Linked DNA regions of Homo sapiens: regions 2 and 3 are each linked to region 1. Evidence: fine-mapped expression QTL. A gene starts in region 1. Each other region holds a variant in brackets. All regions are shown on one strand. Distances are from middle to middle. Region 1 holds the start of VPS35L (VPS35 endosomal protein sorting factor like). Region 2 overlaps VPS35L (VPS35 endosomal protein sorting factor like). Region 3 overlaps VPS35L (VPS35 endosomal protein sorting factor like).

Region 1 (4,118 bases):
TAACATGGTGAAACCCCGTCTCTACTAAAAATACAAAATTAGCTGGGCGTAGTGGTGCATGCCTGTAGTTCCAGCTACTTGGGAGGCTGAAGCAGGAGAATCGCCTGAGCCTGGGATGGGGAGGCTATAGTGAGCCGAGATTGTGCCACTGCACTGCAGCCTGGGTGACAGAGCAAGACTCCATCTCAAAACAAAACAAAAAAGAAACCGATATTAGCCAGGCATGGTGGTTCACATCTGTAGTCCTAGGTACGCTGGAGGCTGAGGCAGGAGGATCACTTGAACCCAGGAGTTACAGGTGGCAGTGAGCTATAATCGCACCACTGCACTCCAGCCTGAATGAGACTTTGTCTCCAAAACAAAAAAGAAAAAAGAAACAGATATTGAAAAGTATTAGGCCAAAACAAATATTGTATATAATCATTCTTTACAAGTTCCATGAAAGATATATCTCATTATTTAATATGTCCCCTGGGCCAGGTGCAGTGGCTCACGCCTGTAATCCCAACACTTTGGGAGGCCAAGGCGGGAGGATCACCTGAGGTCAGGAGTTTGAGACCAGCCTGGCCAACATAGTGAAACCCCGTCTCTACTAAAAGTTGGACTTTTCAGAAGGTAAAACTCAGGCTGGAAATGTCTTAACTTATTAAGAGATAGAAGCCTGCTAAGGGAAGGAGAGGGAGAAAAGAGAATGCGAAGGTTGAAGCTCACATCAAAGCTGTTAATTTGCACAACTTTAAGAATCCTCCTCTTGTTACTGCCTAATCATGCAGTGTGAGCCTAGGAAAAGGCTCCTCACCTTGACCTCTTATTGAGATGTTGCATGTGATAACATGCATGGCTGTATGGGAAGAGCTCCTTGCTTTCCCGTGGCCACCCTTTAACCCTTGTTCACTTCCAGTGTTGGGAATAGCAGGTACGAGTGGATATACTTTCCTACTCATACTGAGCTGAACACTGGAGGGCCCGTTCTGGAGATGATCCTTTTCCCTGTCATAGGTCACCATCTCATGAACAACCACAGACCACCACCCCCGAATGAAAAGTAAGAGTTATAAAAACATCGAATGCTTTCTCTCTAAGGGACCATAATGGATATCTAAGTAAGTTATAAAAGTAATAATTAAAAAAAAAATTTTTTTTTGAGATGGAGTTTCGCTCTTGTAGCCCAGGCTGGAGTGCAATGGCGCAATCTCGGCTCACTGCAACCTCATCCTCCCGGGTTGGAGCAATTCTCCTGCCTCAGCCTCCCGAGTAGCTGGGATTACAGGCGCCCGCCACCATACCCAACTAGTTTTTGTATTTTTTAGTAGAGACGGGGTTTCACCATGTTGGCCAGGCTGGTCCCGAACTCCTGACATCAGGTGAACCACCCACCTCGGCCTCCCGAAGTTCTGGGATCATAGGCCTGAGCCACCGCTCCCGGCCTAAAATAATTTTTAAAAACGTTCTGTGGTCGAAATGGATATCCACCTTCCTAGAAACACTGCTTTGCCAAGTTGGACGAAATGCGAACCCTAATTTCCCCACGTGCATTAGCTGTAGTCAATCATATTAGATCTAGGGCAGCCCTCGGTTGCTAGTCGTGGGAAGGGCATTCTGCAAGTGTCTAAAACCGCCCGCAAAGCAGTGGGTAAAGCAGCGGCCTAGAGGGGGCATGGCTGTCCCACGCCAAACAGCGTATTAGCCGCAAAACCAGGTACTGGCTGAACCTCAGTTTGCGTCTTCGCTCCGCCGCCTTCTGGAGTCCTTTCTGCCCCTAGAGGACGCAGGTGAGCTAAGCAGCAGTCATGCCCTTTACCATCATGACGCCCGCAGGCGGGACCACCCGGCACTGTAGACAGCTGCCCTTTACAATCATGACTCATAGAAACTACGGCACTCTGGCCGTGGCCGACGTTGCTCCTCCGAAGCATGGCGCCGGCGGGAGTTGTAACCCGGGCTGTCCGGAGCGGGGAGCTGCCCCTCACAAGCATGGCGTCAGCTGAAAATGAAGCCTGTGCTGTGCGGAGCGTCGCCTGCCCCTCACAAGCATGGCGTCTGCAGAAGGTGCTGTGCGGCCGCTGCGGGGCGGCCAGCTGCCCTTCACAAACATGGCGGCCGAGGGGTGCGGGGAGTGGCGGGGTAAGGATGGGAAGCCGAGCAGACGGCCCCAGAACAAGCGGTCATGTGACTGGGAAGATGGCCGTCTTTCCTTGGTAAGGAAGCAGCGGCGGGTGGGCTTTGGAGAGGGGCTGTCCTTACTTGTGATGGGGTCGGCCTGGGTCTGAGAGTGTGAATTCCTCTCTGTCGGGTTCTGGTGGTCGACCGGCCACCCCCAAGTTGTCTTGACCGTAGAATCCCTGGCCGCTACCGCGGTCCAGCGGAGCAATCTGAAGCCAGACTGGCGGGTTCTTGGTTCTCTCCCCGTCTGCTGCCTCTCTGCGCCTTCCACGGGCCCCTGTCCATTCATTCCCTAAAGAAAACTTGAGTTTCCAGGCTTCCGCGTCCCCAGAAGTTGGCGCGGGTTCTGGGGTCGCTGGATGAGGGTAATGGTGGACTCAGCTTTTAAAGTCTGGACGAGTCGGGAGATCTGGCTGTTGGTCAGTTTCCTCAGCTCCTCTGTTCACCTGGAGACTTGCTTTTCTCATCTGTAAAATGGCCGCCATTCATCCTATCCTAGGCACAGCCCTCAGACTTATTCCTTGGCCTCAAGGAGCTGACAGTATAATGGGGCAGACGCACAGTAGAGGGATGTCTAAAGAAGGCATTCGGATGAGGCACCAAGAAGGGAGTGATTATCCCCACCAGGGGGCTAGGGGAAGGCTTCAGAGAGGAGGAGTTAAATTGGGTCTTGGAGGATGAATAGGAGTCCACCATAGGGAGGGCGTGGCGTGTGCCTGGTTGGCAGGCCCGTAGGTCCCTTGTGGTTGGAGTAGCTAGGAATGAGTGACTGAAGCTTCAGGGTTCAGCAGGTGGTATGTGTGTGAGTGAAGAACTTGAGGAAGTTGTGTTGTTGATGATAGTGGGATTTGGGGACGGGGAATCTCTCCTGCATCTCAGAAAGCGAGATAATTTACTTTCTCTTCAAATGATGTGAAGTAGCTTAGATTAAATGAGCAAATGAAAGACCTTAGAAATAATCAGGTACAACCTTCTGCTTTTGAGCTTGATAAACACTTCATTTTGTCTTATTCCTTTCATTTGCCCAACACTTAAGAGACTGCTTCCTTGACACGCTACATCAGCATTGAATGCCTCTGAGCACTTCCACACCCTGAGGTTTTTTTTTTTTTTTCAGTTAATAGTCATGCTGGCTGGGTATGGTGGCTCACGCCTGTAATCCCAGCACTTTGGGAGGCCGAGGCTGGCGGATCACCTGAGGTCAGGGGTTCGAGACCAGCCTGGCCAACATGGCGAAACCTAATCTCTACTAAAAATACAAAAATTAGCTGGGCTAAATTAGTGGTGGCACGCACCTGTAATCCCAGCTACTTGGGAGGGTGAGGCAGGAGAGTCGCTTGAACCTGGGAGGCGGAAGCTGGAGTGAACCGAGATCATGCCACTGCACTCCAGCCTGGGCAACAGTGAGACTCTGTCTCAAAAAAATAATAATAAAAAATGAAAAAGTCATGCTGGCTTGACCAAAAAGCTAACCAAAAACATGAGAAACATTTGACTTCAGTGGATTTATCTGAAGTTTGCAATCAGAAAATCCAGGAAGATGCTGTCTTAATCTCTGCATCCCAGTACATTTCTACCTTTGGAATTTTAATTTTATATTACAAGCAGGCAAACAGGTGCCATAACGCTTTTAGTATTTAGGGTCTCTATAGTTCCTAATATGGCCGTGCTCTAAATATTTTGTTGTTGTTGTTTTTGTTGAGACGGAGTCTCGCCCAGGCTTGATTGCAGTGGCGTGATCTTGGCTCACCGCAACCTCCGCCTCCCGGCTCAAGTGATTCTTTGCCTCACTCTCCCGAGTAGCTGGGATTACAGGCGATGCCACCACACCAGGCTAATTTTTGTATTTTTAGTAGAGACGGTGTTTCATCATGTTGGCCAGGCTGGTCTCGAACTCCTGACCTTAAGTGATCCGCCGACCTCGGGTTCCCAAAGTGCTGGGATTACAGGCGTGA
Region 2 (4,000 bases), 39 kb after region 1:
TTTTGGAGCCAGGTAGAAAGGTTTAGACTGAAGAGAATAACCTGGAGGAGCAGGAGGCCCCTGTGCTGCTTGGCAGTGGTTGGTTAGGCCAGAACATCGTGCCATTAGCAGTTTGCTCAAACCATGCAGCCCTCTAAGCTGTATATGATGTGCCCCACAGCAAGGCACCCCACCAGAACCAGGAAATAGGGGCGCCTTCTGAGAGCTGAACACGTGGAAGATCAGAACAGAGACATTCACTGTCTTACAGGGACTAATGGGCTCCCAACCCAGCAAATCTTATCTGTAAACCCATCGAAAGATACAATGTGTCAGAAAGCAGACTATCAATCTGAGAGACTCATTCATTTCTGTGCATCCCAGTCCTGTCCAAGAGACCGGAGGCCTGAGTGCGCTAGCTAAAACAAGTGACAAGAAAGCTAACTAACCTTGAAAAAGTGGGTCTTTATTGGCTTATGCTGAAAAGTCCAGGGGTAGTTTGGCTTCAGGTGCAGCTGGATCCAGGAACCCAAACAGTGTCATTAAGACCTTGCCCTTGGGCCGGGCATGGTGGCTCATCACACTTGTAATCCCAACACTTTGGGAGGCCGAGGTGGGTGGATCATCTGCAGTCAGGAGTTCAAGACCAGCCTGGCCAACATGGTGAAACCCCGTCTCTACTAAAAATACAAAAATTAGCTGGGTGTTGTGGTGCACACCTGTAGTCCCAGCTACTTGGGAGGCTGAGGCAGGAGAATTGTTTGAACCCAGGAGGTGGAGATTGCAGTGGGCCAAGATCACGCCACTGCACTCCAGCCTGGGCGACAGGGCGAGACTCCGTCTCCAAAAAAAAAAAAGAAAAGAGAAAAAAAAAGACCTTGCCCTTGGTTGGGTGCATTCTCGAGCTTCACAAGCTGTCCTCAGCTTCTGCTAGCTTTATTGCTAGTGGTCCCAGGGCATGGAAAGAGCTACTTTCTCCAAGCATTCCCACAGAAGTTTCAGAATCCCATCTTATTGGCCTGGCTTGGATCACATGTCAGTCCCTGAGCCAGTTGTGTTATCTGGGGGATGAAATGCACTGATTATCCAGGCCTGGGTCACCCCAAAACTAAAAGAGTGATACAGTTAGCAGAAGAAAGGGGAGTGGATGCTACCTGGGCAAAAAGAAGAGATGTCCCAGCTGACAGATGAGCCCTGATGGGTTCAGATGGCCCGGAGAGGTGGTATCAGGCTCTCTGCAGGCCACTAGGGAGGTGTCAGCAAACAGAAGGGATAAAAATCCTTGCCTTGGCTAGGCACAGTGGCTCACGCCTATAATCCTACCACTTTTGGAGGCTGAGGTGGTTGGATCACTTCAGGTCAGGAGTGCGAGACCAGACTGGCTAACATGGTGAAACCCCATCTCTACTAAAAATATAAAAATTAGCCAGGCTTGGTGGCAGGCACCTGTAATTCCAGCTACTTGGGAGGATGAAGCAGGAGAATCGCTTGAACCCGGGAGGTGGAAGTTGCAGCGAGCTGAGATCGCGCTGCTGCACTCCAGCCTGTGCCACAGAGCTGAGATTTCGTCTCAAAAAAAAAAAAAAAAAAAAAAAAAAAGAAGAGAAAAAAAATCCTCGCCTTTGTGGTGCTTATGTTTCCAAAAAAGAGAATTTACAAAACAATTAAGTCAACCCAATTGTATGTTAGACAATGATCCATGCTATGGAGAAAACCAGAGTGGGGTGAGGGGGTGAAGAGGAATGGAGGGAATTAGGTGAGGGGGTAGGGGTGCAAGTTTAAGTAAGGTGCTCAGAGGAAGCCTCGTTGAGAGGTTACCTGAGCAGGTGCTTGAAGGCGGTGAGAGGGGAGAGGTGAGCCCTCTGGGTCTGTGGGGTGGAGGCCAGGGGCAGAAGAGGCCAAGGAACAGCTTGTGCGGAGATCCTGGGGTGGGAGCATTGGGAGCATGCCAGGCTGGCCTGAGAACCAAGGAGGCCAAGAGAGAGGCGATGAGATGA[G/C]CCCGGGAGAGGGGCAGAAACTGACATGGTCAGAGATCATGGTGGCCTTGGGGGCCACTGGGAGGACTTGGGCTTTGACTCTGACTCTGAGGACAGGAGGGGCCACCAGAGGGTGTTGAGCAGAGGAGGGAGGTGATCCCACGTGGGATTTAACAGGCTCCGTGTTGAGACTAGACTGTAGGGCGGGGGTAGAGCCCGGAGCCTGTGGCAGCACTTGCGGTGAGAGGCAGGGGTGGCTTGGCCCCGGGAGGCGGTGGAGATGGTGAGGAGAGACCCAGGATGGATGAGGGCTTTAGGTTCTCAGGTTAGATGTCAAATCATACACTGCTGGTCCTTGACGTGTCCATGCACACAGCTTACCTTCGGCGAGTGTGAGGCCCTCATTGGTGGGGAGAGGCTGGTGGCTGTGTCTGGCTCCCCTGGCAGTCTCATTCCTCCCGTGAATTAACCTCTTGGCCGTCTGGTTCCCTCGCCCGCCTCTCCTAAGTTTCTTTTGTATGAGTCAGCTTTCCTGAGCAAGATTAACTCTGAGACACTGATTAGCTCTATCCTGCAAGCCTGGCCAGACCCAGACAGCTCACTCACCTTGCAAGAACTCTGGGCAGCCACTCTGCCAGCTCCTGCCAGCAGCACTCCAGCCCCGTCCTGTACTCCCCGGGCTGTAGTGCAGATGCTGCTGTCCTTGTTGCGTCCCAGAAAACAGCTGGGCTGGGAGTTGGGAACAGCAGTGGTAAACCTTCAACAGATGATGACCTTGGACAGACTGTTTAGGTGCTTTATAGATATTAAGTCCCGGCCAGGCGCAGTGGTTCATGCCTGTAATCCCAGCACTTTGGGAGACCAAGGTGGGTGGACCACAAGGTCAGGAGTTCAAGACCAGCCTGGCCAATATGGTGAAACCTCGTCTCTACTAAAAATACAAAAATTAGCCGGGCATGGTGGTGGGCACCTGTAGTCCCAGCTACTCGGGAAGCTGAGGCAGGAGAAAAAAAAAGATATTAAGTCCCATAATCTGCATAACAGCCCTATGAGATGGGTCTGGTTGTTGTCCCCATTTTATAGATGAGGAACCTGAGGCTTGGAGAAGGAAAGTAGCTTGCCCAGGGTCACCATCATAGTGAATTGCAGAGCTGAGGCTCAACTAGCTCTCTGCAGTCAAAGCACCTACTTTATTTCTCTTTATACATTGCTTATGGGGGAATGCATATACCATTTTTTTTTTTGAGACAGGGTCTCACTTCATTGCCCAGGCCACAGTGCAATGGGGTGATCATGGCTCACTGCAGCCTTGATCTCCTTGACCCAAAGGATCCTCTTGTCTCAGTCTCCCAAGTAACTGGGACCACAGGTGTGTGCCACCATGCCCAGCGAATTTTTTTTTTTTTTTTAGCAATGGGATCTCACTGTGTGGCCCAAGCTGGTCTCAAACTCCTGGAGTCAAGCCATCCTCCCACCTTGGCCTCCCAAAGTGCTGGGATTATAGGCATGAGTCACTGCACCTGGCCTAAATGCATGTACATTTAACCCAACAGTTTCACCTCTGGGAATCTATCCCACCTGTAATAGCAAACTATAAGAAGCAACTCAAGTGGCCATCAATAGGAGCTAGCTCAATAAATTATGGTGTGTCTGTATAGTGGAGTACTAGTGGCTCTGTGAAATGAAAAGGCTGGGCATGGTGGCTCACACTTGTAATCCCAGCACTTTGGGAGGCCAAGGCGGGCAGATCACTTTGAGCTTAGGAATTCGAGACCAGCCTGGGCAACATGGTGAAACCCGTCTTTACTAAAAATACAAAAATTAGCTGTGCGAGGTGGTACGCGCCTGTAATCCCAGCTACTCGGGAGGCTTAGGTGGGGGAATTGCTTGAACCCAGGAGGCAGAGGTTGCAGTGAACTGAGATCAAGCCACTGCACTCCATTCTGGGTGATAAAGTGAGACTCTATCTCAGAAAAACAATCAAACCAACAACAACAACAACAAAACAACAACAAAGAAGGGAAGGAAAGGGCTGGGCATGGTGA
Region 3 (4,000 bases), 22 kb after region 1:
AACAATGTGAAACTCCATCTCTACTAAAAAAAAAAAAAAAAAAAAAAATTAGCCAGGCATGGTGACAGATGCCTGTAATCCCAGCTACTCAGGAGGCTGAGGCAGGAGAATCGCTTGAACCTGGGAGGCGGAGGTTGCAGTGAGCCAAGATCGTGCCATTGCATTCCATTCTGGGTGACAGAGCGAGACTCTGTCTCAAAAAAAAAAAAAAACAAAAAAAAAAAACAAAGAGGTTACTAGGAGTAAAACGTAAGCTTACTGTTTAAGAATTACAGAGGAAGTAGTCTCCCCCTCATTGTGCCTCCCTCACCAACTGGGTTTTAGAGAGCCTTTCCCTTGCCTTAAGTCTTTTCCCTTGTGCAATAAGGTATGTTGGTGAGGGGGTCACATGCTTAGTCTTATACGTCACTGGTCCCTGAATGCAGTTCTCAGCTTCCTCTCCTAAGACACACAGTCAGAAGCTCTGGACCAGGGTGTCTCAAACTGCCGTGTAGCAGGATTTCCTGAGGAACTTTTGTATGAATATAGATGCCTGGCCCCCACTTGCTCAATTAATCTTGCAGGATGGGACCCCAGAATTCCTATTTTGATGCTCCAAGGGGATTCTGGAGCAACTGACGGATCATGTGCTGCTGGGTGCAGATGAGCACAATCATAGTTCATTGCAGGTCTCTGATATGGCAGCTGCCACTCTCCCCACGGCTCTGCTGGATGAGACAGCACGTTAGAAATCAAGAGAGTGGGAACAGCTTTGTTATGCATAGAATTTTTTTTTTTTTTGAGATGGAATTTTGCTCTGTCACCCATGGTGCAGTGCAACCTCTGCCTCCTGGGTTCAAGCAATTCTCCCACCTCAGCCTTCTGAGTTACTGGGACTATAGGTGTGCACCACCAGGCCCAGCTAATTTTTGTATTTTTAATAGAGACAGGGTTTCACCATGTTGGCCAGGCTGGTCTCAAACTCTTGACCTCAAGTGGTCCACCTGCCTTGGCCTCCCAAAGTGCTGGGATTACAGGTGTGAGCTACCACGCCCAGCTTGTTATGGACAGAATTTTGATCCCAGACCATAAAAGGTAAATCATACCCACCAGTTTGTAAAGATCAAATAGAGTGATGATACCAAGTGTCTTAGTTTGTTTAGTGGTACTATAAAGGAATACCAGAGGCTGGCTAATTTATAAGGAAGAGAGGTTTACTTGACTTATGGTTCCACAGGCTATATAAGAAGCATGGTGCAGCATCTGCTGTTGGTGAGGGCCTCAGGCTGCTTCCACTCATGGTGAAAGCAAATGAGAGCAGGTGTGTGCAGAGATTGCATGGCAAGAGAAGGGAGGAGAGAGAGGGAGAAAATGCCAGGCTTTTTTCAACAGCCAGTTCTCATGGGAAGTAAGAATAACTCATTACTGCACTCATTACTGCAAGGATGGCACCAAGCCGTTCATGGTGGATCCCCCACTACAACCCAGACACCTCCCACCAGGCCCCACCTCCAACACTGGGGATCACATTTCAAAGATGAGACTTTGTATGAATATAGAGCAATAGGAGCTCTCATATGCTGCTGGTGGGAATGTAAAATGGCACAACCACCTTGTAGAACACTTTTGCATTTTTTATTTTATTTGAAGACAGGTGCTGTGGTCTGGTTGTTTGTGCCTAACCCCACTCCCCTGCCCCGATTCATATGTTGAAATCCTAACCCCAAGATGATGGTATTAGGAGATGGGCCCTTTTCAGAGGTGATTAGGTCATGAGGGTGGAACCCTCATGAATGGGATTAGTGCCCTATAAAAGAGGTCCAAGGGCACTCCCCTCACCCCTTCCACCAAGTGAAAACACAGCAGGAGGGCATCATCTATGAACCCAACCGGAAAGCAGGCTGTCATCAGGCACTGGGACCTAATCTGCTGGGACCTTGATCTTGGACTTCCCAGCCTTTAGGACTGCGAGAAATACATTGCTCTTATTTATAAGCCACCCACTTTGTAGCATTTTGTTATAGCAGCTCAAAGGGATTAACACAATGAGCCAACCCTTTGATCCAGCATTCCACTACTAGGGGTATCCCCAGATCAGGGGTTGGTAAACTGCATGCTGCAGGCCAAGTCTGGTCCACTGCCTGTTTTTTAAGTACAGTTTTATAGGAACAGAGCCCTATCAATTTGTTTACATATTATCTATGCCTGCTCTTGTGCTACAACAGTAGAGTTGAGTAGTTGGAGCAGACACTTTGTGACTCTTAAAACCTAAAACATTTGTCAGGCTTACAAAAAGAGTTCTGCAGCTCGACCCTAAGTCCACATTTCTTTCTTTTTT[CTTTTTTT/C]TTTTTTTGAGATGGAGGTTACAGTGAGCCGAGATCGCGCCACCGCACTCCAGCGTGGACGACAGAGTAAGACCCCATCTCAAAAAAAAAAAAATGCTAGAACAGAGGCCCCCTAAAGATGGGGGAAGGATTCTGAAATAGACGGCCGCAGAGGGCAGCAGTCAGCTAGATGCATCGCCCTGCCTTGTGGCTGGCCTGTGGCCTGGGGGCCCTTCCTTCATCCCTCCACCAGTCCCTGCTGATGGCGAAATTGTGCTGACAGATGCTGGAAGGAGGCACAGCTAGTCCTGTTTGCTCGAAGAGAGGGCTTTGAAGCCCTAGTGTTTCCACCCTGGGTAGACAGTGAGATGGTTGTTTTGTTAGCAGGAGAGCACAATTCTACGCTGTGAGTAAGAGCCTAAGAGGGCCTTTTGTTCATAGAAAACAATTAGATGACGGATTTTTGGCATCCTTATCTGGACTGCCTTTCTTTAGGAATAAACAGATGATACAGAGCAAAGTTTGTAAATCTCAAATGCAGCGGTTAACCTCTTTGAGGCTGGCCCACTGGGCTCCCAGGGGCAGCTTCTAAGTGGGAAATGTTTCGATGGAATTCTGGTTACATAAGGAAGTTGCTTTGAAAATCTGGGATAGTTTTCTATAATGGAATCATTCCCTTGTGTCTTTATTCACGATGAAGTGTAGAGTGAAAGATGCCTCCACTGGGGGTATTGGTGCACGAGAAAAGCCACCTGTGTGACGTAAATTCATTCTGTTTAGGCAAAGCTGGGACTGCCACATTGGCAATGTCAGAGAAGGTGCGGACCCGGCTGGAGGAGCTGGATGACTTTGAGGAGGTGAGCAAGTCATTTGTGGAATACAGGGAGTGGGAGAGCTTTTCCTTCCTCCTGCCAAGTGAGATCAACCTCGGTGGCTGCTCTTTGATTAATTCCTGGGCTGCGCATTGTGCTTGGTCCTCTCGAGGCAATGACTCCATCCAGGGAAGGGTGCCAGTGTGCAGTTGGCCGAGCTCACGGAAGCCTGACTGGGGCTGCTTTTCTAGAGGCCTCTTTTCTCATTGTGATGCCTGAGCAAGGCTGGGTCGCCTAGCAACAGTGTCTAATGGTAAAAACCAACTGCAAGGCCAGGCGCGGTGGCTCACGCCTGTAATCCCAGCACTTTGGGAGGCCAAGGCGGGAGGATCACCTGAGGTCAGGAGTTCGAGACCAACCTGGCCAACATGGTGAAACCCTGACTCTACTAAAAATACAAAAATTAGCCAGGCGTGATGGTGGGTGCCTGTAATCCCAGCTACTCGGGAGGCTGAGGCAGGAGAATTGCTTAAACCTGGGAGGCGGAGGTTGCAGTGAGCCAAGATCATGCCACTGCACTCCAGCCTGGGCGAAAGAGCAAGACTTTGTCTAAAAAAAATAACCCAACTGCAGTCACCTCCCTGAGAAGCAGCCTTATATGGAGCACAAAGACCTTGCTTTGCAACAGACGCTGCTCAGGCTGGCTGGATATGGCCCACAGGAATCTTTTAATTGGCCTACATGTACTTTGAAAAAAAAGTGAGTCTTTTGCCAACACTTAAACAGTGGTAAATGTAACCAACAAATACAGAATTTCTTGAAAAAAAAAATCTTTGCCAGGCGCGGTGGCTCATGCCTATAATCCCAGCACTTTAGGAGACCGAG

Evidence for each region. PIP is the estimated chance that this variant, and not a neighbour inherited with it, causes the effect. A credible set is the group of variants that fine-mapping cannot tell apart.
Region 2: its variant is the best candidate, but not a certain one, in a credible set for the expression of VPS35L in whole blood (TOPMed, PIP 0.55).
Region 3: its variant is the best candidate, but not a certain one, in a credible set for the expression of VPS35L in whole blood (TOPMed, PIP 0.75).

The regions. Positions count from the first base shown.
Region 1 is chr16:19,553,549-19,557,666 of GRCh38, forward strand. VPS35L (VPS35 endosomal protein sorting factor like) reads left to right here and starts at 2,155. Exons shown (of 31, transcript NM_020314.7): 1 at 2,155-2,198. The coding sequence starts at 2,182. RefSeq lists enhancers at 1,750-2,229, 1,789-2,751, 2,610-2,839.
Region 2 is chr16:19,593,094-19,597,093 of GRCh38, forward strand. All of the region lies in intron 8 of VPS35L (VPS35 endosomal protein sorting factor like), which reads left to right. Among named protein-coding and RNA genes, the nearest start is that of VPS35L, 39 kb to the left of the region's middle. The variant G/C (reference allele first, on the strand shown) is at 1,977.
Region 3 is chr16:19,575,969-19,579,968 of GRCh38, forward strand. It overlaps VPS35L (VPS35 endosomal protein sorting factor like), which reads left to right. Exons shown (of 31, transcript NM_020314.7): 6 at 3,084-3,160. Among named protein-coding and RNA genes, the nearest start is that of VPS35L, 22 kb to the left of the region's middle. The variant CTTTTTTT/C (reference allele first, on the strand shown) is at 2,318.